4 linked regions of the Homo sapiens genome follow. The protein of the gene in region 3 interacts with the protein of the main gene of each other region in a pairwise test. Each region holds a gene or a part of one and is shown on either strand. Other genes may lie near its edges.

What was found.
Region 1: the proteins of PIAS4 (region 3) and ZMYM6 interact in binary tests that used the Homo sapiens proteins (3 or more experiments, as listed by UniProt).
Region 2: the proteins of PIAS4 (region 3) and KCTD13 interact in binary tests that used the Homo sapiens proteins (3 or more experiments, as listed by UniProt).
Region 4: the proteins of PIAS4 (region 3) and MYOZ1 interact in binary tests that used the Homo sapiens proteins (3 or more experiments, as listed by UniProt).

What each region holds. Positions count from the first base shown.
Region 1 is NC_000001.11:35,014,932-35,021,955, forward strand, and holds part of ZMYM6 (zinc finger MYM-type protein 6), read right to left. Parts: intron 5,537-7,024; coding exon 5,452-5,536; intron 4,672-5,451; coding exon 4,422-4,671; intron 232-4,421; coding exon 57-231; intron 1-56. UniProt on the Homo sapiens protein: Plays a role in the regulation of cell morphology and cytoskeletal organization.
Region 2 is NC_000016.10:29,923,203-29,930,543, reverse strand, and holds the start of KCTD13 (BTB/POZ domain-containing adapter for CUL3-mediated RhoA degradation protein 1), read left to right. Parts: upstream 1-4,317; 5' UTR 4,318-4,510; coding exon 4,511-4,754; intron 4,755-7,184; coding exon 7,185-7,341. UniProt on the Homo sapiens protein: Substrate-specific adapter of a BCR (BTB-CUL3-RBX1) E3 ubiquitin-protein ligase complex required for synaptic transmission.
Region 3 is NC_000019.10:4,024,722-4,031,745, forward strand, and holds part of PIAS4 (E3 SUMO-protein ligase PIAS4), read left to right. Parts: intron 1-3,424; coding exon 3,425-3,466; exon of another isoform or gene 3,467-3,468; coding exon of another isoform or gene 3,469-3,476; intron 3,477-3,788; coding exon 3,789-3,879; intron 3,880-3,998; coding exon 3,999-4,127; intron 4,128-4,209; coding exon 4,210-4,315; intron 4,316-7,024.
Region 4 is NC_000010.11:73,631,452-73,638,475, forward strand, and holds the end of MYOZ1 (myozenin-1), read right to left. Parts: intron 6,472-7,024; coding exon 6,293-6,471; intron 3,283-6,292; coding exon 3,033-3,282; intron 2,615-3,032; coding exon 2,449-2,614; intron 711-2,448; coding exon 479-710; 3' UTR 161-478; downstream 1-160. UniProt on the Homo sapiens protein: Myozenins may serve as intracellular binding proteins involved in linking Z-disk proteins such as alpha-actinin, gamma-filamin, TCAP/telethonin, LDB3/ZASP and localizing calcineurin signaling to the sarcomere.

The sequences.
Region 1 (7,024 bases), on a different chromosome or scaffold from region 3:
CAGTTAAAAAAAAATCTCTTTCAGCAGAATCCCAATAAAAGTAAAATGTAACTTACATCAGCATTCTTCTGACACATACTGCACTTAGTTGAAATGCTTTTGGTATATATGGTAACAACAGGTTTTTTCTTTAGCTCATAAGATGACAAGCATGATTGGCTGCAGAAATCTTTGCTAGGATAGGAATTCTCAAAGCGAGTTGTGATCACATCCTTAGGATTTAAAATGTCTCTAAAAATAAATAACAAAGGTAAAAATGAAATGTATTCTTCACAACTGTAACTTCCTCCTCTTTGTGAGGTGAAATAACACTTACTAAGGGCAGGTACTGTATGGTAGAAAAAGGATAAGGAATCTGCAAACCTGGGTTTGATGAGTTCTGCTATTTATCAGGTGAGTGACAATGAATGATGTAATTACTATCTCAATTTCTTCATGTATAAAATGGGGCTTATAATATCTAATTCATAAATTTGTCAAGAGTGAATTATATTTAAAATATAGCCAGCCAGGGCCAGGTGCGGTGGTTCATGCATGTAATCCCATCACTTTGGGAGGCCGAGGTGGGCGGATCATGAGGTCAGGAGTTCGAGACCAGCCTGGCCAACATGGTGAAACCTCGTCTCTACTAAAAATACAAAAACTAGATGGGCGTGGTGGTGGGCGCCTGTAATCCCAGCTACTCGGGAGGCTGAGGCAGGAGAATCACTTGAACCCGGGAGGTGGAGGTTGCAGTGAGCCGAGATTGTGCCACTGCACCCCAGCCTTGGCAACAGAGCTAGACTCCATCTCAAAAAAAAAAAAAAAAAAAAATATATATATATATATATGTGGCCAGCCAGATGCTGAAGACAAAAATAGGAAGGCTTCCAGCCCCAACCAAGTTTCATCTGCTATAGCCAATGGGACCAGTGTCCATCCCACAACTCCAGACCACAAGACACTGGTTCTCTCATTAGCCAGAGGCTGCCCAAAGTAGAACTGAAATGAGACAATAAATGAATTTTTTCTTTCTTTTTTTTTTTTTTTTTTGTGAGACGGAGTCTCGCTCTGCTGCCCAGGCTGGAGTGCAGTGTCACGATCTCGGCTCACTGCAATCTCCACCTCCTGGGTTCAAGCGATCCTCCTGTCTCAGCCTCCGGTTCGAGTAGCTGGGACACCAGCACGTGCCACCATGCCAGGCTAATTTTTGTATTTTTAGTACAGACGGGGTTTCGCCATATTGGCCACGCTGGTCTCAAATTCCTGACCTCGCGATCCGCCTGCGTCAGCCTCCCAAAGTGTTGGGATTACAGGCATAAGCCACCGTGTCCAGCCAAGACAATAAATGAATGTTTAAAAATTAAAAGTGCAAGATTTTGAGAAACAAATGAGCTAACAGAAGACAAAAAATAAGCATGATATATGACAAAAGGGCTGTTAAGGCTTTGTATCAGAGGACAGATGGAAACAAGAACGAGACAGGAAGAACAAAAATAATTGGGTGGTTCTGTGAGACTCCTAGAGCCAATTTGTAAGAGCTAATTATTGCAATAAGCACAAATAGCAATACCCTGGTAAAACAGAGGTTAAGTATTGCCATTCTTCTGACAAGTATAAAAACTAAAGGAAATAGTCACTAATTATAAACACTAGTGCAGGCCACAAAGTAAATAATAATGGCAATAATATATACTACAATAAGTGTGTTGAGTAATTACTATGTGCCAAGCATTATTCTCTTTACTCAAATTACCCAATTTAAATACCACAAAAATGATGGAGTGCAGTGGCTCACCCCCATAATCCTAGCACTTTGGAAGGCCAAGGCAGAAGGATTGCTTGAGCCCAGGGAGTTCAAGACTCCAGTGAGCCATGATCATGCCACTGCACTCCAGCCTGGGCAACAGAGCAAGACCCGATCTCTATAAAAAAAATTTTTTAATTAGCAGGGCATGCTGGCTCATGCCCATGGTCTCAGTTACTCAGGATGCTGAGGTGGGAGGATTGCTTGAGCCCGGGAGGTAGAGGCTGCAGTGAGCTGGGATCACGCCACTGCACTCCAGCCTGGGTGACAGAGTGAGACCGTGTCTCAAAAAAAAAAAAAAATCCCCAAACCACTATAAGGTTAAGTATTACTGTAACTGCCACTTTACAGATGAGGAAACTGAATGAGAGGTTAAATAGCTTGTCAAAGTCATATTGCTAGTAGGCAATAAAGCTGAAATACTAATCCAGGCAATCTGATTCTAGTCTATGGAATTAATTATTCCACTATCCTGCCTCCCATCCTGCACCTTTATTATACAGGTATATTCAATGGTAAACCATGAGAAAATAACAACAACAAAAATTATTTTAATTCTTTAAAACTCAACTTTAAAAATATGACAGCAAATCTTAGAAACCAAAAGAATATGCTTATACACAGATGAAGTATTAATTTTGAAAAGTGATTTTTCTACTGAAAACAGAGCAATAAAGAGTTTCACTTAATAAGGTGAATCTGCCAGTGGCATAATAAGTACAAAAATAGCAAGTAAAAATATGTAAATCAAAGAGAATGACTTTATAATGAAAATCTGTGCACATAAATTATAAGTGTACTCTGAACCTTACACATGCAAATGAGTGTTATATCGTAACATTTACCGTAGAAAAACCACACCTTCCAACAATAACATAGCTCAAAACATTTTTCTAATTTTTTTAAGATAAAACTTAAGATAAACCCTTAGACTATTTTTTAACTTTTAATTTTATAAATATCATGTTTTAACAGTATGACTTAATTTAATTAGCTAATATATTGGCCTGATTAAGGTATCAAGCAGCCTTTGAAAATTTGTAAAAATCAAATGCATGCTGAAAAGATAAGAATCTGTCTCCTAACCTTATGCTAAAAAGTCACTGACGGGGGTGACTACTTTTAAGAAAACAATAGGCATTTGGATGTATAAGTTGTGTTATGTTCTTTAAAATTATTTAATTTTATTTTGGTATTTGGTATGTTGAAACAATATCTAAAAATAGAAAACTAAGTTTACTCTTTCAGATTAGTTTCATGAGAATGACATAAAAGCATTAATTAGAATGGTATTTTGCAACAAACTAATTTAGAGTATATAAATATTTTAAAATTCCTCTCTCCTGGCCACATGTGATGGCTCACACCAATAGTCCCAGCACTTTAGGAGGCTGAGGCAGGCTAATTGCTTGAGCCCAGGAGTTTGAGACCAGCCTGGGCAACATAGCAAAACCATCTCTACAAAAAAATACAAAAATTAGTCGGGCATGGTGGTATGCGCCTGTGGTCCCAGCTATTTGAAAGGCTGAGGTGGGAGGATCATCTGAGCCCGGGGAGTTCAAGGCTGCAGTGAGCTGTGATCACTCTACCATGGGCAACAAAGAAAAAAAAAAATCCTCTCTCCTCTTTACTTGGAAATTTCCATATAGCAGGATCTACTTTTAAATAGTTTAAGTCAAGACACAAAGCAGATAAACACAGCCAAAGACAAAATAGGGGCCTACAAGTGATATGTTAAGTATACATAGTAATATGTATTATATACACATATATTTATTATATTTATTTATGTTAATTATAAATAATCGCACGATATAATTTTTATTATTAATAATAACAGGATTCCATTTTTTAAGTACTTGCTATGTGCTAGGCCATTTGCTAACACTGTCTCATTAAAGTCCTAGGAAGCAACTATTATTTACTGATGAGAAATGGAGGCTTAGAAAGTTAAACATCTAGCCCGAAGTCACAGAGATAAATGACAGAGCCACAATTTAAAAGCAAGCTCTTACTGTTTTTTGCCTGTAGTGACTATTAACAACACACTGTATTCCTCAAATTACACTACCACAGAAATAGGCAAAATATGCCAAATCCTTCAAATGTACTAAGTCAGGGAAAGATTTATGTGACTTTGTTGCTGTTTTTTCCTCTCTCTGCATCTAAGCATTATTGTAAAGCAACAATGACCCCACAAGGACATTAGAAATAAACACATTTTTGCGACCATGTAGAGTTTTTACTTTTTAAAGAATTAAATAGCTTTTGTATACTATTAAAAGAGTGATATTATTTTATGCTATACCCAATAGCTTTCAAGATAACTGTTAAATAAATTTAAATGGTGGGTGTCTACAATTACAGGATAGTCCTGCAATTCCCACATGTCATTTGTTATTTCTTTCCATAGTAAAATTTAAAGTGATAGAAAACTGGTTTAGGCAATATTCTAACACCAAGTCACTTATTTAATGTTGCAAAACTTTAAAATTGGTGAATTCTTCCATTAACTAAAAAGTTATTTCTACAGATACATGCTGAAGAGATTTAAAGTATCAACAGTATGTTTGAACTAAACAATATACACACTAAAAAAAAGGTAAAGTAAAAAGGGATGTTAAGAATTTTATACTTCGAGCAGTTTGTGCAGGTTTTCTTGGGAGGAGGTGGCAGGCAGGCAGGTGAAGAATGTCTGGTGATGCATCGTGTGGAGCAGAAGAGCTGAGTAGATCCTGTCTTATGATATGCAGTTTGGCCCTTATAAAGCATTTTTTTACAACCAGAACAAAAAACCTTAATAGCAACAGCTGGAACTGAAGGAAGCAACACACTTGGGCCAGATGATGCAAAAGAAAGCTGAAAGCCTGGGTTCAACTGCTGGGCTATCAAAACAAAATAAAAAAAGTTTTAGTATCAATACTAATGCATATACAGTCTCAGTCTCTCTCTCTCTCTCTCTTTTTTCTTTTTCTGAGACACGGTCTCACTGTCACCCAGGCTGGAGTGCAGTGGTGCAATCAAGGCTCACTGAAGCCTCAAACTCCCAGGATTAACCAGTCCTCCCGCCTCAGCCTCTTGAGTAGCTAGGACTACAGGCACATGCCACCACACCCAGCTAATTTTTTTTTAATTTTTAGCAAAGATAAGGTATGTTGCCCAGACTGGTCTCAAACACCTGAGCTCAAGCGATCCTCCTGCCTCAGCCTCCCAAGTTGCTGAGATTACAGGTGTTAGCCACTAAACCCAGCCCAGTCTCTCTTTTTCAGGACAAATTCCCAATCTTGAAATCCAGTTAATGAGGCAATAAGAGCTCTAAAACAGAGGTTTCAATTTTTTTTTAACCATTACTCAACGCAAGAAATACATTTAATATTATAACCCAGTTCTCACATACATATGTTTGTAAACGTGGGGATGTATGTACAATTTAATCACTGAAACAGAAGTTTTATGAAACAATATGTTTCCTTACTACACATATCATATTCTGATATAATCTTACTCTATTTTTTAAAACGCTGCTGAAAACCAGCTACTCACAGTTTGAAAAAACACAGCTCTAAAGAAAGAGAAAGACATACATGAAAAGATGCTTTCCCTCAATTTTAAAAGTCAGAATAAGCAAATTAATTGTAACTAACTTATACAGTTCCATTTCTTACCAATAGGTCTCTCATTAACTGAAGACACACCACCAATTTTCAATTTACTTTCTTGAGTTTTTGGCTGTTGGACACATCCATACTCCTTTAAAAAAAAAAAGAAAAGAGAAAAGAGCAATGAATACAATGTATGTAAGTAAACTAGAAATTCAAGCAAAAAAAAATTATTCTATCCTATTCATCTCCTTTTTTTTTTTTTTTTTTTTTTGAGATGGAGTCTCACTTGGGTGCCCAGGCTGAAGTGCAGTGGCGCGATCTCAGCTCGTTGCAACCTCTGCCTCCCAGGTTCAAGCGATTCTTCTGCCTCAGCCACCCGAGTAGCTGGGACTACAGGTATGTGCTACCACACCCAACTATTTTTTGTATTTTTAGTAGAGACAGGGTTTCACCACATTGGCCAGGCTGGTCTCGAACTCCTGACCTTGTGATCTACCCACCTCAGCCTCCCAAAGTGCTGGGATTACAGGCGTGAGCCACCACACCCGGCCCTATTCATCTCTTAAACAGTCTAATCATAAATACCTTCACAAGCACCTCAAAAGTCAAAATTTACAAGTTATTACACTAATCTTTACAAAGACAATCTTTCAGAATTAGAGAATCTTTTAAAATACTTTTATCTACTTTTCAAATGAAATTTTGATATATGGGAGTAATACATAGCTATTCCAAATGCTGAGCACTACCTATTTTTTAGGTAGTGTGTTTAAAAGGGGGTAATAAATGAAAAAAAAAATTTTTTTTTTTTTTTGACATGGAGTCTCATTCTGTCACCCAGGCTGGAGTTTCATTCTGTCACCCAGGCTGGAGTGCAATGGCGTGATCTTGGCTTACTGCAACCTCCAACACCCAGGTTCAAGCGATTCTCCTGCCTCAGCCTCCCAAGTAGCTGGGAATACAGGCTTGCGCTACCACACCCGGCGAATTTTTGTGTTTTTTTCCAGTAGAGAAGGGGTTTTGCTATGTTAGCCAGGCTGGTCTGGAACTCCTGACCTCAGGTGATCCGCCCACTTTGGCCTCCCAAAGTGCTGGGATTACAGGTGTGAGCCACTGCACCCGGCAAAAAGGAGCAATAAATGAAATTAAATCTGGCTGGGCGTGGTGGCTCACACCTATAGTCCCAGCTACCCAGGAGGCTGAGGCAGGAGAATCACTTGAACCCGGGAGGAGGAGGCTGCAGTAAGCCAAGATTGTGCCACTGCACTCCAGCCTGGGCAACAGAGCGAGCCTCTGCCTCAAAAAAAAAAAGAAAAAGAAAAAAAGAAAAGTTAAATCTGAATGATTTAGAGTTTGGATTTCAATCATTTTAGATTTACAAGCTGCCTTTTCTGTTAATGGCAGAAAAGATACAAGAGTGTCAATGCAATCTGCTCATTATACATAAAATCATCACAGACAAAATCCTATTTATTCTTACCACATTCTTTAAAACGTTTTAAAACAAAATGTAATCATGAAACATTTTTAAAATGTAAATGCCTATCTTTATTCTGAAATTGCAACCATCCTTTTTTTTAATGTTAAAATACCCTTACATATTTCAAAACAGGAAGTTTTTTAAAAAGTCTTACTT
Region 2 (7,341 bases), on a different chromosome or scaffold from region 3:
TGGGGCTGGGCGTGGTGGCTCATGCCTGTAATCCCAACACTTTGGGAGCCAGAGGTGGGTGGATCACCTGAGGTCAGGAGTTCGAGACTAACCTGGCCAACATGGTGAAACCCTGTCTCTATCAAAAATACAAAAATTAGCCGGACATGGTAGCAGGCACCTGTAATCCCAGCTACTCAGGAGGCTGAGGCATGAGAATCACTTGAACCCGGGAAGTGGAGGTTGCAGCTGAGCTGAGATTGTCCTATTGCACTTCAGCAGGCAACAAGAGTAAAACTCTGTCTCAAAAAACAAAAACAAAAAAGAAATGGTGACCTGGGCAAAGTTTACCCAAAGGACATTAGTCTGAGAATACCTTCCGAATTGTACAGTCTCTGGAGCTGGTTGTAGGACACACTTACTGGCTCTTGGTTGCTGGAGTGATTTCTCTGGTTAATTCTGATAACAAATAAGACTCTCGGATGCTAACTAGTTGCACAACCCCTCAACAGTTGGCATCCCTACCTTCCTAGAGGGATAAGTTGTGTTCGGTCACCAGAGATTCAGCAATAATAGGTTTGTGATGCCCTTAGACATCCGAGGCTACACATCCATCCTTTTCTTTTCTTTTTTTTTTTTTTTTGAGACAGAGACTTTTTTTTTTTTTTCTCTGTCGCCCAGGCTGGAGTGCCATGGCACGAACTCGGCTCACTGCAACCTCTGCCTCCCAAGTTCAAGCGATTCTCCTGCCTTGGCCTCCCAAGTAGCTGGGATTACAGGCACCTGCCACCACACCCAGCTAATTTTTTGCATTTTTAGTAGTCGGGGTTTCACCATTTTGGCCAGGCTGGTCTTGAACTCCTGATCTCAGGTGATCCACCCACCTCAGCCTCCCAAAGTTGCTGGGATTACAGGCCTGAGCCACCGCGCCCAGCCTACATCCATCCTTTTTATATCGACTTTGCCTCTTATAGACAAACAATATTCAAAATACTAGACAAGAAAACACCATAGGAATGAGTGTAGAAGGACAGAAAACAATTGCACCAAGGACAAAATAAATATTTGATCAGATAACCAAAAATCCAGTGTGGGGGCCTTATTCCAGGAGTAAAAAAACTGAAAAACCAAATAAACCCAATGCTTGGCAGGGCATGGTGGCTCACATCTATAATCCCAGCACTTTGGGAAGCCAAGGTGGGAGGATTGCTTTGAGCTCAGGAGTTTGAGACCAGCCTGGGTAACAGAGTGAAACCCTATCTCTACAAAAAAATATATATATAAAACTTAACCGGCATTCCTGGGTGTGGTGGCTCATGCCTGTAATCCCAGAACTTTGGGAGGCCAAGGTGAGCAGATCATGGGGTCAGGAGTTTGAGACCAGCCTGACCAACATGGAGAAACCCCATCTTTGCTAAAAATACAAAACTTAGCCAGGTGTGGTGGCGCATGCCTGTAACCCTAGCTACTCAGAAGGCTGAGGCAGGAGAATTGCTTGAACCCGGGAGGCAGAGCTTGCAGGGAGCAGAGATAGCGCCACTGCACTCCACTCTGGGAGACAGAGCGAGACTCTGTCCCCCGCCAAAAAAAAAAAAAAAAATTAACCGGCATTGGTTAATTTTAGTGCCAGCTACTCAGGAGGCTGAAACTGGAGAATCACTTGAGCTGGGAAGCAGAGGTTGCAGTGAGCTGAGTCGTACCACTGCACTCCAGCCTGGTCAACAGAGTGAGACCCTATCTCAAAAAGTAAAAAATGAAAAATAAAAAATATGGCCAGGCATGGTGGCTCACGCCTGTAATCCTAGCACTTTGGGAGGCCGAGGCGGGTGGATCACCTGAGGTCAGGAGTTTGAGACCAGCCTGACAAACATGGAGAAACTGTCTCTACTACAAATATAAAATTAGCCAGGTGTGGTGGTGCATGCCTGTAATCCCAGCTACTCAAGAGGCTGAGGCAGAAGAACTGCTTGAACCCAGGAGGCGGAGGTTGCGGTGAGCCGAGATCGTGTCATTGCACTTCAGCCTGGGCAACAAGAGTGAAACTCTGTCTCAAAAATTAATTAATTAATTAATTAAAATAAAAAGTAAACCCAATGCTTAAGGGTATCAACACAATATCAGAACTCAATTAGCTTCCAACCATCAGCAGGTTGGCACCTCAGCGACATAAGCAGTTTCAGGTGTGCATACAATGACGAGTCAAGGGTCCCAGTCCCAGGCAGTGAGGGCTTCAGCTGAATCTTTGTTGCTCCTCCATTTCTGATAGTACCCTCCAACCAAGGACCACCAGGAAGCACCTGTAGTTGAACAAGGGAGGCTGAACACCACAGACATCTCAGCAAGAACATGTGTGAAAGGACTTATTACAGGATTGGAACTTTCATTAGGGGACTTCCTAGGCGGGTCCAAAAAGGGGGGCATTTGCTCTGGGTTGGATGCTATCAGGAAGTAGGGATAATTCTTTTTGGTTATCTTAATAATTCTTATCTAGAAGATGGGAGGAATGAATCAAGCTAAAACTGTACTTGGTAAAGAAGCAGCAGTGGCCAGGTGCAGTGGCTCACACCTGTAGTCCCAGCACTTTGGGAGGCCAAGGTGGGCATATCACCGGAGGTCAAGAGTTCAAGACTCACCTGGGCAACTTGGTGAATCCCCGTCTCTACTAAAAATACAGAAATGATCTGGGCATGATGGTGGGTGCCTGTAATCCCAGATACTCTGGAAGCTGAGGCAGGAGAATCGCTTGAACCTGGAGGTGGAGGTTGTGGTAAGCCAAGATTGCATCACTGCACTCCAGCCTGGGTAACAGAGCAAGACTTCATTTCAAAAACAAAACAAAACAAACAAAAACAACAACCAAAAAAAAAGCAGCAGTAACTTACGCTGTGGGAGAGAGGATTGTGTTGGTAATTTTTGTGGTTTGGACAATGTTCTTGTTTCTGTATTGAGGCTTTATTATGGAATGGTCTTTTTCTAGATCAGTCAGAGAGTGACCTTGTCTGATGTTTTTTGTGAAATTATTTTGCTCAACAGGACACCACCATGGCCGTGCTGTTGGTGCCAGGTCAGCTCCTAGCAACATCAAGGCTTCTGGAGTGAGGGTGCAAACCAGCTCCCAGCTGGCAGCAGTTGCTTTTCTCTTTTACACCGCCACACTCGAAATCAGAAAATTGGCAACCCCTTTGGTAGAACATGAGCTCCCGGTCACTACAGGCCCATTTATACCCAGTAACAGGCCCAGGTCACACATTTACACTCCGACCTTCCTCCTGCGTGTGCATCCCTTACACCAACCACGCCCAGAGAAAAGTCACTCGTCTAGCATCTCCCAGGGACCTGCTGGCAGGGCTGAAGATAGAACTCTGACTCTGTGTTTTCCCTCCAGCAACCCCCCTTGCTAGACATTAAGACAGATTGTTAAATCCCTGATGTATCGGCTTCTAAACTGGATGCAGATCGGGTCAGATAAAAACACTTCTCAGTGCACCTTCTTGTCAACAGTGGGTTCCTATCTATTCTTCTTTCTTTTGGGATTGGGTGCTAGGTCCCACGACATTAGCTGGGATTCTAAGACCTTTGCTCAGCTGCTGCGGCCACCACTGACACGCCCTCTGCTCCTCAAATACGGAGAACAGTTCAGTGTTCCTGCCTGAGGATCTCTGCATTTGCCTTCCCTCTGCCTGGAACTCTTCCCTCACATCCGCTTCCCAGCTTCAGCTCGGCATCACCTCCTCAGAGAGGCCTTCCATCCTTGGTGCCCGGGCACCACTGCTACCCGTTTTGGCCTCTGTTTTTTTTTTTTTTTTCAAAGGACGTTATGTTGCCCAGGCTAGAGTGCAACGGTCCGATCACGGATTACTGCAGCTTCCAACTCCTGGCTTCAAGCGCTCCTTCTGCCTCGGCCTCCCGAGTAGCTAGGCTTACAGGCTGGGGTTACAGGTGTGAGCCACAGCGCCCGGCCGCTTTGGCCTCCTTTAAGAGCTTCCCTCCGCGCTTTGTTCGCAGTTCTGGTCACAGTCTGTTCAGTGCGCGGGGCTGGGAGGCGGGAAACTGCCCAATGCCCAGACCTCTCTGTCTGTTTCCCCTCAAGCTCGTGAAGCTCTCTGACAGCAGAGACCCAATCACGAGGTGGAGACTTCGCTTTCCACATCGGGCAGGGGGTCGGCCGCATCCTCGATCTGGTCCTGGTGACTCGAGACCAGAGAGGAGCGCACGTCGACCCGCCCGGGGAACCCGCAGGCCACACGCCAAACCTCTACGGGATCCCCCAGCGAGGCCACTGCGCATGCTCCATACTCGCAGCCCCGCCCCCATTCAGGGGCGGGGCCGCGCCTGCGCAGCTGCCCGGCGCCGGCTTCCGGGTGGTGCGAGCGAGATGGGGCGGAGGGCCGGTCTTGCAGAGTAGCTGCGGTGAGTGGGCGTGTGCGCCGAGCGGTCTGGCCCAAGGGCTGGGGGCCGGCCGAGGGTCTTCGGGAGCAGGCCGCAGGGCGCGGAGAGATCCTGGGATCGCCGTCCGCCGCTGCTACCCGGCATGTCGGCGGAGGCCTCGGGCCCGGCTGCCGCCGCGGCCCCGTCCCTGGAAGCCCCCAAGCCCTCGGGTCTCGAGCCTGGCCCCGCCGCCTACGGTCTCAAGCCGCTGACCCCGAACAGCAAATACGTGAAGCTGAACGTGGGCGGCTCGTTGCACTACACCACGCTGCGCACCCTCACGGGACAGGACACCATGCTCAAAGCCATGTTCAGCGGCCGCGTGGAGGTGCTGACCGATGCCGGAGGTACGAGCGGCGCCCCTACCGTGCCCCCACCCCAGACCCCCAACTCCCGTTCCCCGCAGTCTCTCACCACCGGGGCTCCTCATGCCCCTTCTCTCTGCCCGCTACTGTCCAGTCAACTCATTCTCAGCTCCCTCCAGCCCCCACATCCCATCTCCTCCCCTTTCTCATTCATAATTTCTCTTCTCCTCCCCCAATCCTTTACCCCCAGCAATAACCAACACTTACGGAACCCCTAACTGCCAGGCGCTGTGGTAAGTGATTGAACGTGTCAGTTCATAATCCTCATGACCACCTCTCCCACCCTTCACCCCTCAGCTCAAGACTTGGGAACTAGCCCTGCTGCCTGCAGTACTACTCCTGGCAGCCTTCCTCAGTTTCTTCCGACTGCCCAGCCTTTTGTTTCCCTCTCTGCTTCAGAACTGCTCACAGCCAGCCAGGAGAGCTGGGAGATCTTGTTTGCCTCTGTGTTCCCCTGACACAGGTCCCTGTACACTCTAGGAATCCACCTGTATACACACATTGCAGAAGGAGGCTGCTTTGGGTTTGCCAGGGACACCAGAGTGGAGGGTGGACAGGTCTCCTTGGCAGGTGAACCTTACCTTCTTGGAGTGTTGCATTCAAGTATGGACCCTTCGTGCCCAAGTGAGACTTTGAAGTTTTGGAGTTTGGGAGTGGGAGAGTCTTAAGGGAGGGGTTAACGAGGACTGTGAGAGCAGGAGAATAAAAATTTGAGAGGCGGAGATCTGCCTTCAAGTATCAAAGGTGAAGAATTCGGCCAGGTGCGGTGGCTCACGCCTTTAATCCCAGCACTTTGGGAGGCCGAGGCGGTGGATCACCTGAGGTCAGGAGTTCGAGACCAGCCTGACCAATATGGCGAAACCCCGTCTCTACTAAAAATACAAAAATTAGCCGGGCGTGGTGGTGTGCGCCTGTAGCCCAGCTACTCGGGAGGCTGAGACAGGAGAATCGCTTGAACCTGGGAGGCGGAGGTTGCAGTGAGCCGAGACAGCGCCACTGCACTCCAGCCTGGGCGACAGAGAGAGACTGTCTCAAAAAAAAAAAAAAAAAAGGGAAGAATTCATTTGTCCAATAAGTATTTGTAAAATATCAGTTAGTGCTGGAGATAGGTAAATGAACCTGACAAAATTATGGAAATTCCCTTTTTTTAGGGAAGTGGGAGATCAGAAGACCAATAAGCAAGTAAACAAAATGTATATGCATATGCAATTGCAGATAGTAGTAAGTTCTTTCTTTTTTCTTTTTTTGATAGTAAGCTCTATGAAGAATATAAAAGTTAAAATGGCAGTGAACTGGACGGGGGGAGGTAGACATTTTAATTAAATAGGATGGTGAGAATTAACTTCGGGGGTTAACAGTTTATTGATAAGGTAATTCTGCAAGAACTTTCTCATGGTGAGAGCCTTCTGACTGTAGACCAGATATGGATGAGTTAATTATCTGGTTGAATATGTATAAAAACTTAAGGGAGAACTCGCTGGAGATGTTTTAAAGAGATTTCTTGGCTGTGGCACAGGTTTGAGACAGATCAGTATTCAGACTTTTTTGTGGCTTTGGAATCCTTTTTCTTTTCTTTTCTTTTCTTTTCTTTTTTTTTGAGATGGAGTTTCACTCTTGTTGCCCAGGCTGGAGTGCAATGGCACGATCTCGGCTCACCGCAACCCCCACCTCCCGGATTCAAGCAATTCTCCTGCCTCAGCCTCCTGAGTAGCTGGGATTACAGGCATGCGCCACCATGCCCGGCTAATTTTGTGTTTTTAGTAAAGACGGGATTTCTCCATGTTGGTCAGGCTGGTCTCGAACTCTTGACCTCAGGTGATCCGCCCACCTCGGCCTCCCAAAGTGCTGGGATTACAGGCGTCAGTCACCGTGCCCGGCCTTCTTTTCTTTACTTTTCTTTTTTTATTTTTTTGTTTTGAGACGGAGTTTCCCTCTTATTACCCAGGCTGGAGTGCAATGGCGCGATCTCGGCTCACTGCAAACTCCACCTCCCGGCTTCAAGCGATTCTCCTGCCTCGCCCCCCCCCGAGTAGCTGGCACCAGCCACCAAGCCCAGCTAATTTTGTATTTTTAGTAGAGATGGGGTTTCTCCGTGTTGGTCCTGCTAGTCTCAAACTCCTGACCTCAGGTGATCTGCCTGCCTCAGCCTCCTAAGGTGCTGGGATTATAGGCATGAGCCACCGCGCCTGGCTGGAATCCTTTTTTCTTATAATTTAGGCCAGGTTTGGTGGCTCACACCTATAATCCAAGTACTTGGGAGGCCGAGATGGGAGGATCACTTGAGCCCAGGAGTTCAAGACCAGCCTGGGCAACATAGTGAGACTCCATCTCTACAAAAATTTTTTTTTAATTTAGTAGCTCCAGGTCCCGCAGCAAAGCCATCTTTCCCCCTGCCTCTCCCCACCCCACTAGGTTGGGTGCTGATTGACCGGAGCGGCCGTCACTTTGGTACAATCCTCAATTACCTGCGGGATGGGTCTGTGCCACTGCCGGAGAGTACGAGAGAACTGGGGGAGCTGCTGGGCGAAGCACGCTACTACCTGGTGCAGGGCCTGATTGAGGACTGCCA
Region 3 (7,024 bases):
GTGTCCAGCATGAGCAGGAAGTTAAGTCAGGTGTTTTTTTGTTTTTTTTTTTTGAGACTGAGTGTAGCTCTTGTTATCCAGGCTTCCAGGCTGGAGTGCAGTGGCGCGATTTTGGCTTCCTGCAACCTCCACCTGCTGGATTCAAGCAATTCTCCTGCCTCAGCCTCCCAAGTAGCTGGGATTACAGGCGCTCACTACCACGCCCGGCTAATCTTGTATTTTTAGTAGAGATAGGGTTTTGCCATGTTGATCAGGCTGGTCTCGAATTCCTGACTCAGGTGATTCACCCACCTCAGCCTCCCAGAATGCTGGGATTACAGGCGTGAGCCACTGCGCCTGGCGGAAGTCAGGTTTTTTCCCAGTTATATAATGAATACGGGGTTTCCCCCTCCATACCGTGGATAGTGAGGTGGGATGGTTCCCTCGGTGGGGCCGTCCTGGGCACTGCAGGCTGCTGAGCAGCATCCCTGGCCTCCACCTGCTCTGTGCCAGGAACACCCCTAACTCTGACAACCACAGATGTCCCCAGACACAGCTCGGTGTCGCCTGGGGCAGGGTCGTCCTCAGATGAGGACGGTTGAACTGTGGCAGGTGAGGGGCCAGTGTGGCTGCCCTGCGCTCTGCTCCTCCCTCAGTCTCTCCGAGGCTGTACTGCCTCCAGCTGAGACAGATTCCTGCTGGGCAGGCTAATGGTAGGTGCTGGGCCCTTAGGACAGGGGAGGCCATTTGCCCAGGTCACCCCTGAGTCCATGGCAGGGCTGGGCCGGGCGCCCCCATTTAATGCCTAGCTTCTCGTGCCCAGCCGCTTCAGACCCACCGCCCCCACCTGCTGTGGGGCCAGGTTCCTGGGGCCTCCCAGCCTGGCCCTCACACCTAGTAAGGGTTCAGATCCAGCCGAGCCAGGCTTGGCCATGGAGGCCTCTCTGCCTGGGTGACCCAAGGTGGCGACCTCGTCTTTCTCAGCCTCGTCTTCCTTGTCTATGTACCTGGGTCAGCACAGCCTCCACCTGCACTGGGTCCCTGCTGCAGAGTGCTCAGAGCCAGCCACACAGTATAAAAAAATCAGTTTGGGCTGGGCACGGTGGCTCACAACTGTAATCGCAGCCCTTTGGGAGGCCAAGGCAGGTGGATCACGAGGTCAGAAGATCGAGACCATCTTGGCTAACACAGTGAAACCCCGTCTCTACCAAACATACAAAAAAATTAGCCGGGTGTGGTGACGGGCGCCTGTAGTCCCAGCTACTCGGGAGGCTGAGGCAGGAGAATGGCGTGAACCCGGGAGGCGGAGCTTGCAGTGAGCCGAGATCCTGCCACTGCACTCCAGCCTGGGCAACAAAGGGAGACTCCGTCTCAAAAAAAAAAAAAAAAAAAAGTTTGGTTTTCTCCTCAGAAAGCTTCTGGACATTTCTTTTTCTTTTTCTTTTTTTTTTTTGAAATGAAGTCGCTCTGTCGCCAGGCTGGAGTGCAGTGGCGTGATGTCGGCTCACTGCAACTTCTGCCTCCCAGGTTCAAGCGATTCTCCTGACTCAGCCTCCCGAGTAGCTGGGACTACAGGTGCGCACCACCACGCCTGGCTAATTTTTGTATTTTTAGTAGAGACAGGGTTTCACCATGTTGGCCAAGATGATCTCAATCTCTTGACCTCGTGATCCACCCCACATCTGCCTCCCAAAGTGCTGGGATTACAGGCGTGAGCCACCCTGCCCATCCCACATTTCTTTTTCTTATGTCGAGATATGATTTGCATACCATAGAATATACAGTTTTTAAGGGTGTCATCGAGTGGGTTCTCGTGGATCAGTAGGTATCGCAGCTCCCACCACTGCCTAGTCTCAGGGCAGTCATGTCCATCCCCAGCAGCTGCCACCCTTCATCCACTGGCCCCCACGCATCCCCTCCTGTCTGTAAATGGGTCTGTCCTGGACATTTCATAGAAGTGGAATCACATACTATGTGGCTTTCGTTTATTATTATTATTTAAGACAGAATCTCACTCTGTCGCCCAGGCTGGAGTGCAGTGTCGCGATCTCAGTTCACTGCAATCTCCGCCTCCCAGGTTCAAGTGATTCTCTTGCCCCAGACTTCTGACTAGCTAGGATTACAGGCGTGCACCACCACACTCAGCTAATATTTGTATTTTTTTTGAGACAGAGTCACACTCCGAGGCCCAGGCTGGAGTGCAGTGGCACGATCTTGGCTCACTGCAAGCTCTGCCTCCTGGGTTCACGCCATTCTCCTGCCTCAGCCTCCCAAGTAGCTGGGACTACAGGCACCCGCCACCACGCCTGGCTGATTTTTTTTTTTGTATTTTTAGTAGAGACGGGGTTTCACCATGATAGCCAGGAGGGTCTCGATCTCCTGACCTTGTTATCCGCCCGCCTCGGCCTCCCAAAGTGCTGGGATTACAGGCGTGAGCCACTGCACCTGGCCTAATTTTTGTATTTTTAGTAGAGACGAGGTTTCACCATATTGCCCAGGCTTGTCTCGAACTCCTGACCTCAAGTGACCCACCCACCTCCGCCTCCCAAAGTGCCAGGGTTACTGGCGTGAGCCACCTGCCTTGTGTGTCCTTTCGTGTCTGGCGTCTCTCACTGGGTGGGACATCCTCACGGTGCACCTGTGCTGAGGCCTGGGTCTGAGCCTGGCTCCTTTCCATGGCTGGGTCGCGTCCCGTGCGTGTTGGTCCTTCGGTCTACGGAAGGACACTCAGGATGCTGCTAGTTTGTGGCTGTTGTGGTCAGTTCTGCTGTGAACATCCACGGATGCGTCTTTGGGTAGATAGACTTTTTCCTCTTCTTCTGGGGGCGTTTCTTGTTAAAGTTTATCCTCAGGTGTTACTGGTTTTTGTTTTTTTTTTTTTGGAGAGTGTTTCTCTTTGTTACCCAGGCTGGAGTGCAGTGGTGCAATCATAGCTTGCAGCCTGTGCCTCCATGGGTTCAGACGATCCCCCTGCCTCAGCCTCCAAGCAGCTGGGACCACAGGTGTGCACCACCACGCCTGGGTAATTTTTTGTGGAGACAGTTTCACCATGTTGCGCAGGCTCGTCTCAAATTCCTGGGCTCAAGAGCTCCGCCAGCCTTGACCTCCCAAACTGGGTGTTTTCTTGCCATTGTGAGCCAGCTGCTAGATTCCCGCATGCACGTTTTAGCTATGTTTCTTCGCAGGGAGAGGCACCTGGCTGCCCTCTCTGGTTCAGGGTTTTGCTGTGGATTCTGTTGCATTTTCCAGGGAGGCCAGCCCCTCTCCTGACCTCACAGCCACTCCTCTCACCCAGCCCGTACAAAAGAGTCCTGGGCCTCAGTTTCCCAGCTCTGGGGGAGGGAGCCTTGTGGTGTGGCGGTCTCCACCTTGTCGGGTGGGCTGGGGTCACGCCCTCCTCACTCAGCTCTCCTTTCCTTTCCTCTGGTTTGCTCCACACCCACAGGGAACTGCAGCCCGGAGTTAAAGCCGTGCAGGTCGTCCTGAGGTATGCCCAGGTGTGCCCGCGACCCCAGGGCTGGACCCCCAGCCACCCGCCCCTCCCCGCCCCCCAGTCCTGGCCCAGGCCCTTCTCAGTCTCCCCTGCTAACAGCAGAGCCCAGCTCTCCTCACCTGCTGTCTATCCCTGTCTGGGGATACATCACCATCCGACCCCCACTCAGGCCACACCCGGGGGCCCTGATACCCCCCGTGTCACATTCTCCGGTGCCCCCATCACTGCCGCCTGGCTACCACTCGTGTACCCCCGCAGCAGCCTAGTCCCTCCTGTGCGCCCCCTCCCCGCCCCATGGTCCCTGTTGTCGTTGCAGAATCTGTTACTCAGACACCAGCTGCCCTCAGGAGGACCAGTACCCGCCCAACATCGCTGTGAAGGTCAACCACAGCTACTGCTCCGTCCCGGTGAGCATGCCCCGCCCCCGCGTCGGCTGCACGGGTTTGGGGGGCGTGGAGGGAGGGTGGGGGCCGTCGGATTTCCCAGCCGCTCTTGGCTCGAGGCTGAGCGGCCCATCTGCTTGCAGGGCTACTACCCCTCCAATAAGCCCGGGGTGGAGCCCAAGAGGCCGTGCCGCCCCATCAACCTCACCCACCTCATGTACCTGTCCTCGGCCACCAACCGCATCACTGTCACCTGGGGGAACTACGGCAAGGTGAGTGCGTGCCCGGGTGCCCACCCTGCCCCCCAACCCCGGCCCCGTCCTGCCAGCCCTGACCCCTTCCTTCTGTCCCCAGAGCTACTCGGTGGCCCTGTACCTGGTGCGGCAGCTGACCTCATCGGAGCTGCTGCAGAGGCTGAAGACCATTGGGGTAAAGCACCCGGAGCTGTGCAAGGCACTGGGTGAGCAGCTCAGGCCACCTCGGCCGAGGGGTGCCAAGTCCACCCTGGAAACCCGCCCTGTGCTGGGTGAAGCGGGGGGCCCTGCACCCGGAGGAGATCGATCAGGGGCCGCCTGTCACTCTGGGGGTCCATGGCCCCCCGGCTGTGGCTGGGGAGGTCTCTGGAGGATACGGATGGCAGAGGGGGCACTTGGCAGTGGGAGCTGCTGTGCGGAGGCCTGTGGGGTCACACCTCGTGTTGCTGGCCCCAGGTGCTCCAGCCCACAGGGGTCTAAGCAGCAGAAGAGCTGGAGCCTCATTCCGGGACAGCACAGAGGCCGGGAGGGGTGAGAGGAGCACAGAGGGAGCTGTGGTCTAAGCAGCCCCTTCTCGTTGCCTCAGCGGGGCCGAGGGTGCTGCGGGACCTGGCGGGTCACGGACGGCCAGGGTCGTGGAGGCAGTTGCTGTGGGAGGAAGACGGGCGGCGGCGGTCTGACCTCACGTTGGTGAGGCCCCGTTTAATCTTTTTTCTTTTTCTTTTTCTTTTTTTTTTAGAGAGTCAGGGTCTCTGGGAGGTAGAGGTTGCAGTGAGCTGAGACTGCATCGCTGCACTCCAGCCTGGGCTGCAGAGCGAGACTCCACCTCAAAAAAAAAAGTGTCTCGGTGTATCGCCCAGGCTACAGTGCAGTGGTGGGATCGTGGCTCACTGTAGCCTCTAACTCGGGCTCAAGCCATCCTCCTGCCTCAGCCTCCTGAGTAGCTTGGGACCACATGTGTTCACCACCACACCCAACTAATTTTTTTTTTTTTTTTTTTTTTTTTTTTTGAGACAGAGTCTCACTCTGTTGCCCAGGCTGGAGTGCAATGGCACGATCTCGGCTCACTGAAACCTCTACCTCCTGGGTTCAAGCGATTCTTCTGCCTCAGCCTCCTGAGTAGCTGGGACTACAGGCATGTGCCACCATGCCCGGCTAATTTTTTGTATTTTCAGTAGAGACGGGGTTTCACCTTGTTAGCCAGGATGGTCTTAAGCTCCTGACCTCGTGATCCGCTTGCCTCGGCCTCCCAAAGTGCTGGGATTACAGGCGTGAGCCACCACGCCCGGCCCCAACTAATTTTTTAATGTTTCGTAGAGATGGAATCTTGCTGTGTTGCCCAGGCTGGTCGTAAACTCCTGAGCTCAAGCAGTGCACCTGCCTCAATCTCCCAAAGTGCTGGGATTACAGTCTTGGCCACTTTCGCACCTGGTCTCTTTTGTCCTTGTAACAATGAAAACAATTTTTTTTAAGTGACACGCAGAGCAATTTTAAAAGAAAGCCTGCCGGCAAGGCGCAGTGGCTCACACCTGTAATCCCAGCACTTTGGGAGGCCGAGGCGGGCAGATCATGGGGTCAGGAGAGCAACACCATCCTGGCTAATATGGTGAAACCCCATCTCTACTAAAAATACAAAAAATTAGCCAGGCGTGGTGGCAGGCACCTGTAGTCCCAGCTACTCGGGAGGCTGAGGCAGGAGAATGGCGTGAACCCAGGAGGCAGAGCTTGCAGTGAGCGGAGATCGTGCCACTGCACTCCAGCCTGGGTGAGAGTGTGAGACTCCATCTCAAAAAAAAAAAAAAGCCTGCCAAGCCTGGTAGGCAAATCAGTCCTCACCCCAAGCAGCCACGCAGCACAAAGCCAGCGTACAGCAGTTAGCCCTGCCTGGCGGCTGTGTGGCCTCAGAAAGTCGCTGGCCTTCTCTGGTGGCCACTGTCTTCAGGAGAATAGATCTGAGCCATCTTGAGGGCACCTGGACATCTCTCTGGACCCCACATGCTTGGGGCCCAGGCCTCAGTGGGCTCTGCAGGCCTGTCTTATGGAGAGGCTAGGCCTAACCTGGAGTCATTTGGAGCTGGGAGTGGGAGTCAGGCAGGTGGGTGAGGACTGGGACCACCTGCCAGGCTGACGAGAGGGCGGTTCTGGGCCAGCCGGGTTTGCTCGCACCCCCTTCCCGAATGGTGGCTGTTTTCAGGTGGAATCTGGGCACCACCCCAGCCCCTTGGCAGAATGTGGGCCAGAGGGTCTTCCAGCTGCCCCTCCTAGCTGCCCAGGCCCCTGTGCCCAGGCCAGAGAGTTCCCCATGAGCACTGCCCTCCTGGCACAGCCAGGCCCAGGCCTCTGGTCCCTGTTCCTGACCACCAAAGGGCACCTCCTTGCCTGGGTGTCCAGAAGCCTGGAGCAGTGCTGGCACTGCCAGGGGCCTGCGAGCCCCATCGTGTTGAAGCCTCCTGTGCACTCCAGCCCCCCAAGTCAGGAAAGATAGCCGGCAGCACCCCCTCTGCAGAGCAGGACGTGGAGGGTGAGGGGTCCCTCCACGGAGTCCGGCATCCTTGGCCAGCCTCCTCCAGGCTCGGGGATGGAGGGCCTGGCTATGTACCCGTGTGACCAGTGGGGACACTGAGGCACAGAGTGGCAAAGTTAGGGTTCTGTGTCCTGGGTTACCCCGCCCCACCTCCCTCTTCCCTCAAAGGGCCCTTTTTTCAACCGCCCCCGACCTTCCCTGCCTGTGGGGACATGGCCAACTTGAGGGAGGAGGCTGGGGCCGGGCAGGCCTCTTCTAGGCCCACGGGGTGGGGGCCGGGCTTAACTCCTCAGTGACCAGAGCCCGCAGTGCTGGGGGCTGTGGGGTCAGGCTTCCTCTCCGAAGGGGTCTCCTGCTGCTTCCCACAGCCGGCCCCAGGCTCAGCCTCTCT
Region 4 (7,024 bases), on a different chromosome or scaffold from region 3:
TGTCTCATGTACTATTGAATAAACGTCTTTGTAAGTAACTATGAATGTGGTTTTGTGCGTATGGGTGTAGGTGTGTAAGCAACTGGAGCTCAGATCTGTCTTAAAGTTTGCATAATTAATGTTTAGTATTTGGCTTTAATTAGTCTCTGTGCATTGTTAGCCTCGGCTTTCATCTGCTCTCAAATATCAAAGGAAGAATGAGTTCATTTTCCTTGAAGTTTATTGACTGTTACTGGTGGCAGAGCAAATTCCATAAACGAGCAGGTTCCATATGGAGCAAGTAGAAGGGGAGCTCTGAGTTGGTGAGGAAGGATGCGTGGAGTGGGGACTTGGAGTAAAGGATGGAAAGGTAGATCTCTCCTTTTTCCCTCCATTCCCATAAGGATACTGGATTAACAATGGGGGCTATCTGCTCAGCATTCCCTCTCCAAATTGGAGCCAGAGAGGGGAAATGATGCAAATCAGAGGAGGAAACACCTCACAGCTCCTCTGTTTCTCCATCCAAGGGGATGCCAATATCCACGTTGTAGTCTACAGGCTCCCCAGAGCTCAGCCAGGGAATAGGGGTTCGATTGAAAGAAGGCCTGTTGGAGAGGTTTTGGTTGTAGAGGACCAGGGGTTCACTCAGCAAGGGCCCCAGGTCAAACTTGGGCATCTGGAAGGTCATGCGTTTGGAGGCCTTCTCATATCCACCATAGGGCATTGCCGTCCTGAGAAGGGGACACATTATTTAATTAAGAATCAGAATAAAAGAAACAGAGCCTTATCATGAGATGCTACCCTCTTTGAGAATAGGGAAGTCTGTGAATTCTAGTTTGGGATTGCATCTGTACTCCTTCTTCTTCCTTAGCATCCCATTTTGCCTTCCTGGTTAGCTTGTTTCCCCAAAGCTAATAATGAGAAAAGGAGTCTAGTGTGTACTAGAGACTCTTGGATAGCTGTGACCCAGACCAGCATTTCAGAGAAAGTGACCCCAAATACTATAGACCCAAGGGCCTGAGGTCACCTTACATGACAATGTAGAAAGGCCAGGTGCGGTGCGGTGGCTCACGCCTGTAATCCCAGCATTTTGGGAGGCCAAGGTGGGTGGATCACTTGAGACCAGGAGTTTGAGACTAGCCTGGTCAACGTGGTGAAACGCCATCTCTACTAAAAATACAAACACCCCCCCCCCAAAAAAAAATTAGCTGGGCATGGTGGCGCACCCCTGTCATCCCAGCTACTCAGGTGGCTGAGGTATAGGAATTGCTTGAACCCAGGAGGTGGAGGTTGCAGTGAGCCGAGACTGCACCACTGCACTTCAGCCTGGGCAACAGAGCAAGACTCTGTCTCAAAAAAAAAAAAAAAAATTGCAATATAGAGACCCCCTCTCTCCAACCCTAGTGGACAGTGGATAGCCTGGCTAAGAGTAATTATTGTTGCCTGGAAAATCCAGGCTCCTTAGGACCAAATACAAGAGTACCTTTCTAGCTCTTCCCTATCCTTTCACACAGACCTCCTCTCCATGGGCTAGAGAAGCCTAATTCCAAAAGAACAGAGACTTAGAGCCATCTAAAGCAGGGTGGCCAGGCATGGTGGCTCACGCCTGTAATCCCAGCACTTTGGGAGCCCGAGGCGGGCAGATCACCTGAGGTCAGGAGTTTGAGACCAGCCTGGTCAACATGGTGAAACCCCATCTCTACTAAAAATACAAAAATTAGCTGGGCGTGGTGGCGGGTGCCTATAATGCCAGCTACTAGGGAGGCTGAGGCAGGAAAATCACTTGAACCCAGGAGGCGGAGGTTGCAGTGAGCTGAGATCATGCCACTGCACTCCAGCCTGGGCAACAAGAGCAAAACTGAGTCAAAGAAAAAGAAGGAAAGAAAGAAAAGAAAAAAGTATAAGGAAATAGAATCATATTACAGGGAGAATAATGGCATCCTAACCTTGAATGGAAGAGAGCCTCAAGAGGCCTTCAGACATGTAAAATGTTATTCGCATTTAACATTCAAAGCAGGCCGGGCACGGTGGCTCACCCCTGTAATCCCAGGTCTCAGGTAGGCAGAGGCGGGAGGATAGCTTGAGCCCAGGAGTTCGAGACCTGCCTGGGCGATATAGCGAGACCCCATTCTCCACAAAAAGGAAGCAAAAAAAAGACAAAAAATAAATAAGTGTAACGTTCAAAGCAACCCAGGCTCAGAGGTAGAGTGATTTTCCCATGCCTACACAGCTAATAAATGACCATTGAGCTAGAATTCAAATCCTGCCTCCCAGCAAATTTTTTCCTTCATCACACTGCTATGATGAAGCTGAGATAGAGTGAAAAGAGCAGGGCCTTTGATTAGGACCCCCATATCCCTGCCATCTCTCCTTAGCCTCCTTCTGAAACATTTGAATTAGTCTCCATCCTAACTAAAGACACAGTGCCTCACACTAGAATGCATCTGGTTCCTTCCTCACCACCCCTACCTGTTGAAGGACTTATATTTGGGAAGTTCAGCTTTGGCCCCATAGGCCAGCAGGTCAATGCCAAGTTCCATTTTTTGCTGGGGGTCAACCCCCATGGCTCGCTCCCATGGGGAAATATAGGTCTTGAACACAGTGATATGTTTTCCTTCTCCGCCTGCCTGGTCTCCTGGTAGCCATGGGAGAGAAAATTCAGTCAAATAATAGCATTTAGTAGCCAATGAAAGGTAATCCCACGCCCCTACACTAGGGAAATTGCAAGAGCCAGGGACTAAAGATATAATATCCTGGTAATTGTATAAGGTTTGTGGCATAATGATAGTCTGTGGGCAGATCTGTGACTGAATCCGAAAAGCCAGGAAAGTAACTGAAAAACAAGGCTTCTGGGTAGAATAGACACATCTCTATATACTCCTGGACCCAGGTAATTCACCAAGATATTTATGATATTTAAACTGATATTATTATATTTAATATTAAGATATTTAAACTGACCTCCTCTGCTCCCCACACTCAGCGTAGACATCATTCCTGGGACAACTCTGCTCTAGGGACCAAACACATTACTCTTGGGTGAGTGTACTTGCCTGATCCTGTCTCACCAACCCCTGCTGTGCCAGCAGCTCCTCCTCTGCCAGCCTGGCCCGCGGGACCACCTGTACCCCCAGCTCCAGACCCAGAGCCCAGATGGTGCTGCTGATCAGAGCCATACTGTCCGGCAGAGCCACTGCCCCCTGCCTGGCTGCCGCCTCTGCCGTTGCTCTTGCTGTATGAGAATCCCTGACCAGCTGTGCCCAGCTGTCCCCCCACTGTTGGAAGGAACTTCTGGAAGTGATCCTGAAAAGAAGACAAAGTGAGGGGAAGGTTAGCAATGGGTATGGAAAATATACAAAAACAGAGGTATGTTTAGCAAAGGCAGAAATAGTGGCTAACCAGAAGACCCTGAATTTTCTGATATTTCCCCCTCCAGTTGATGGGTAGTACATGGGCTGACTAAGAGAATTAAACTCTTCTTTTTGTTTGTTTGATTTTTTGTGGTTTTTTTTAGACAGAGTTTCGCCCTTGTTGCCCAGGCTGGAGTGTGATGGCACGATCTCGGCTCACCGCAACCTCAGCCTTCCAGGTTCAAGCAATTCCCAGCCTCAGCCTCCCGAGTAGCTGGGATTACAGGCATGCACCATCACACCCGGCTAATTTGATATATTTTTAGTAGAGGTGGGGTTTCTGCACGTTGGTCCGGCTGGTCTCAAACTCCGACCTCAGATGATCCACCCACCTCGGCCTCCCAAAGTGCCGGGATTACAGGCGTTAGCCACCGCACCCAGCCCGAATTAAACTCTTCTTAAGAGGTAGGACTCCCTTGGCTCGTTTCCTCCAGTTATACCTAGGGTAAGGGCAGCGTGTTCTCCACACTCCCCTTTCTCATCCTTAACAAGTCAAAAAAGACCAACACGCCTGCCCAGCTTTAAAAAAAAAAAATGAAAAAAAATTCTTTTGCTTTTTGAGACAGAATCTGGCTCTGTCACCCAGGTTGGAGTGCAGTGACACAATCTCGGCTCACTGCAACCTCCACCTCCCTGGCTCAGGCAATCCTCCCACCTCAGCCTCTCAAGTAGCTGGGACTACTGGCATGCTACCACACCCAGCTAAATTTTGTATTTTTTTTTTTCCTAGAGACAGGGTTTGCCATGTGCCCAGGCTGGTCTCAAACTCCTGGGCTCAAGTGATCCATCTGCCTCAGCCTCCCAAAGTGCTGAGATAACAGGCATGAGCTGTGTCCAGCCCCAACTAAAATTTGGGAGGATGGGGTTGCCATGGAGCACCCAGTCTTAATTACAAGGACTAGAGAAATTCTGCCCCCTCCCTTCCTCAGCTTGTCCAACAGTCAGAACTCTCTTCTCTCTCCTTCTTTCTCTTCCTCTCTCCTCTTGGTGCCTGTTGGACCTCACTGGTGACAGTGACACTGTAGCAGGTGGGGGGAAGTGTGGCCAAAAGGGCAACATTAGATGCAAACCCAAAGCCTAAAAATAACCCCACCAACTTCTTCAGGAGGCTCTCCTGGCCATCCCACCATGTACACCCCAATGCTCCACCCAGTGTAACCAGACCCAGGCAGAGAAGAGTGCTTTTGGCCTCCTAAAGTTAGATATGAGCAGCTCAGCACTTTTACTCTGCTCCTATATGAGGACCAATGACAGACACTTCTGCCCCCGGCCCCATGCAGGCATCTATTTCCACTCTCCCCCAGCCACTCAGAGAGGGTGGAGGAGGAAGAAAGGAAATGGAGAAGGCCCTTCTTCCTCAGCTATACCATCCTGTGCCTGGCCCCTCTCCAGTCTCCTCTTTCTTTGGAGAAGGAGCCTGACTAGAATATATCTTGAAGGACCGTTTCAGTCTCCACACCTGGGGCTTCTTAGGGAATAGACTGACCCTTTAAATGGAAGAATGGCTCAAATGGGAGGTGGCTGTAAAAACTCAATTAACTCTTTCTAGGGTTGCCAGATTTAGCAAATCAAATATAGGATACCACTTAAATTTGAATTTCAGATGCACAACAAATTTTTATTTTTTTTTTTTAGATGGGTTCTCTGTCACCCAGGCTGGAGTGCAGTGGTGTGAACATGGCTCATGTTCATGCATCCTCTACCTTCCAGGCTCAAGCCATCCTCCCACCTCACCCTCCAGAGTAGCTGGGATTACAGGTGTGCGCCACCAGACCCAGCTAACTTTTTAATTTTTTGTAGAAACAGAGTCTTGCCATGTTGCCCAGGCTGGTCTCCAACTCCTGGACTCAAGCAGTCCTCTTGCCTTGGCATCCCAAAGTGCTGGGATTACAGGTGTGAGCTACCACACTTGACCCAAATACTTTTTTAGTATAGATATGCCTCCAAATATTGCTTGGGACTTACTTATACTAAAAAAATTATTCATTTGCATCTGAAATTCAAATTTAAGTGGACATCCTGTATTTTTATTTTAATGTCCCAAATATTGCATGGGACATATTTAAAAAAGAATTCATTGTGCATCTGAAACTCAAATTTAATTGTATATTCTGTATTTTAAAATTTCAATTTTATTCTTTGCCTTATCTTCTTCCTTTTTTCTTTTTTCTTTCTTTTTTTTTTTTTTTTGAGACAGAGTTTCACTCTTGTTGCCCAGGCTGGAGTGCAGTGGCACAATCTGGGCTCACTGCAACTCCACCTCCTGGGTTCAAGTGATTCTCCTGCCTCAGCCTCCTGAGTACCTGGGATCACAGGAACCCACGACCACGCCCAGCTAATTTTTTGTATTTTTAGTAGAGATGGGGGTTTCACCATGTTGGCCAGGCTGGTCTCAAACTCCTGACCTCAGGTGACCCACCTGCCTCGGCCTCCCAAAGTGCTGGGATTACAGGTGTGAGCCACCATGCCTGGCTGCCTTATCTTCTTTCTAAAATTTTTTTAAATTTTTATCTTTATGTCCCAAATATTGCATGGAGCATACTTCACTAAAAAATTATTCATTGTGTATCTCAACTTCAAAATACAAGACTGGACTGCCCCACTGGGCATCCTGTGTTTTATCTGGCAATCTATCTTTAACACTTACCTTTACTGGGAAGGAATTTTCTCCCTAAGGGTGTGGTATTCTCCAACCCTTCAGTGGCTCTATGATGAAAACTGGGTTTCAGAGGTGGGCTGTAACTCACCCTGGAGCTGTTGCGGGCTCAATATATCTGGGGGTTTAACAAATTTATAAATTTTCAGGGAGGGGATGTTGACTGCATTTTGGAGGTTCAGGGCCTACTAACAAGCTGTCAGAACAGGCACCAGGCTTTGAGATAGTGATAAAGTTCCAGACTCACCATTGAGCTGTCAGAGAAAACATCAGGGTGGTTCTCATAAATAAACTTCTCCACCCTCATCTGCCGCAGTTTGAACATCTTGGAGCCCCGGTTGGTAAGCAGCGACAGTTCCTCCAACATCACATCCCTTGGGACACTGATCTTTTTGCCCAGGTTCAAGCCTGAGCTCTCCTGTCCACCTTTCAGGGAGGCAAAGAAGAAGAATCAAGGGAAAGAGGAAAGTAGGGTTTTCTGGGCTCAGAATGCAGACCTCATCCACAACTAAGTGTGTATGTGTGTCCTGGCAGAGGTCATTTAGGGGAACAAATGCTGTCTAGTTTGTGAGGGATTTTGATTTCCTGGGACTTGGAGAGAATGCATGGGAACTGGGGTGCACTGTGGAGATAATGGGAATACTAGAGTGGAGAGGCCAATGGGGTAAAAGAGGTACGGGCATGGGGTACAGAGCAAAAGGAGTAAAGGAACATCATAGATGGAGGCCATTGGAGAAACCATGGCATCAGGAAAAACCCAGAGGCCAATCTTGTGTGGAGTCCAAATACAGATGCCATATATATATATATATATATATTTGTTTTTATTTTTTATTCTTTTTTTTCATTTTTTTGAGACAGAGTCCTGCTCTATCATCCAGGCTGGAGTGGAATGGCGCGATCTCAGCTCACTGCAGCCTCCGCCTCCCAGGTTCAAGCAATTCTCCTGCCTCAGCCTCCCAGGTCGCTGGGATTGCAG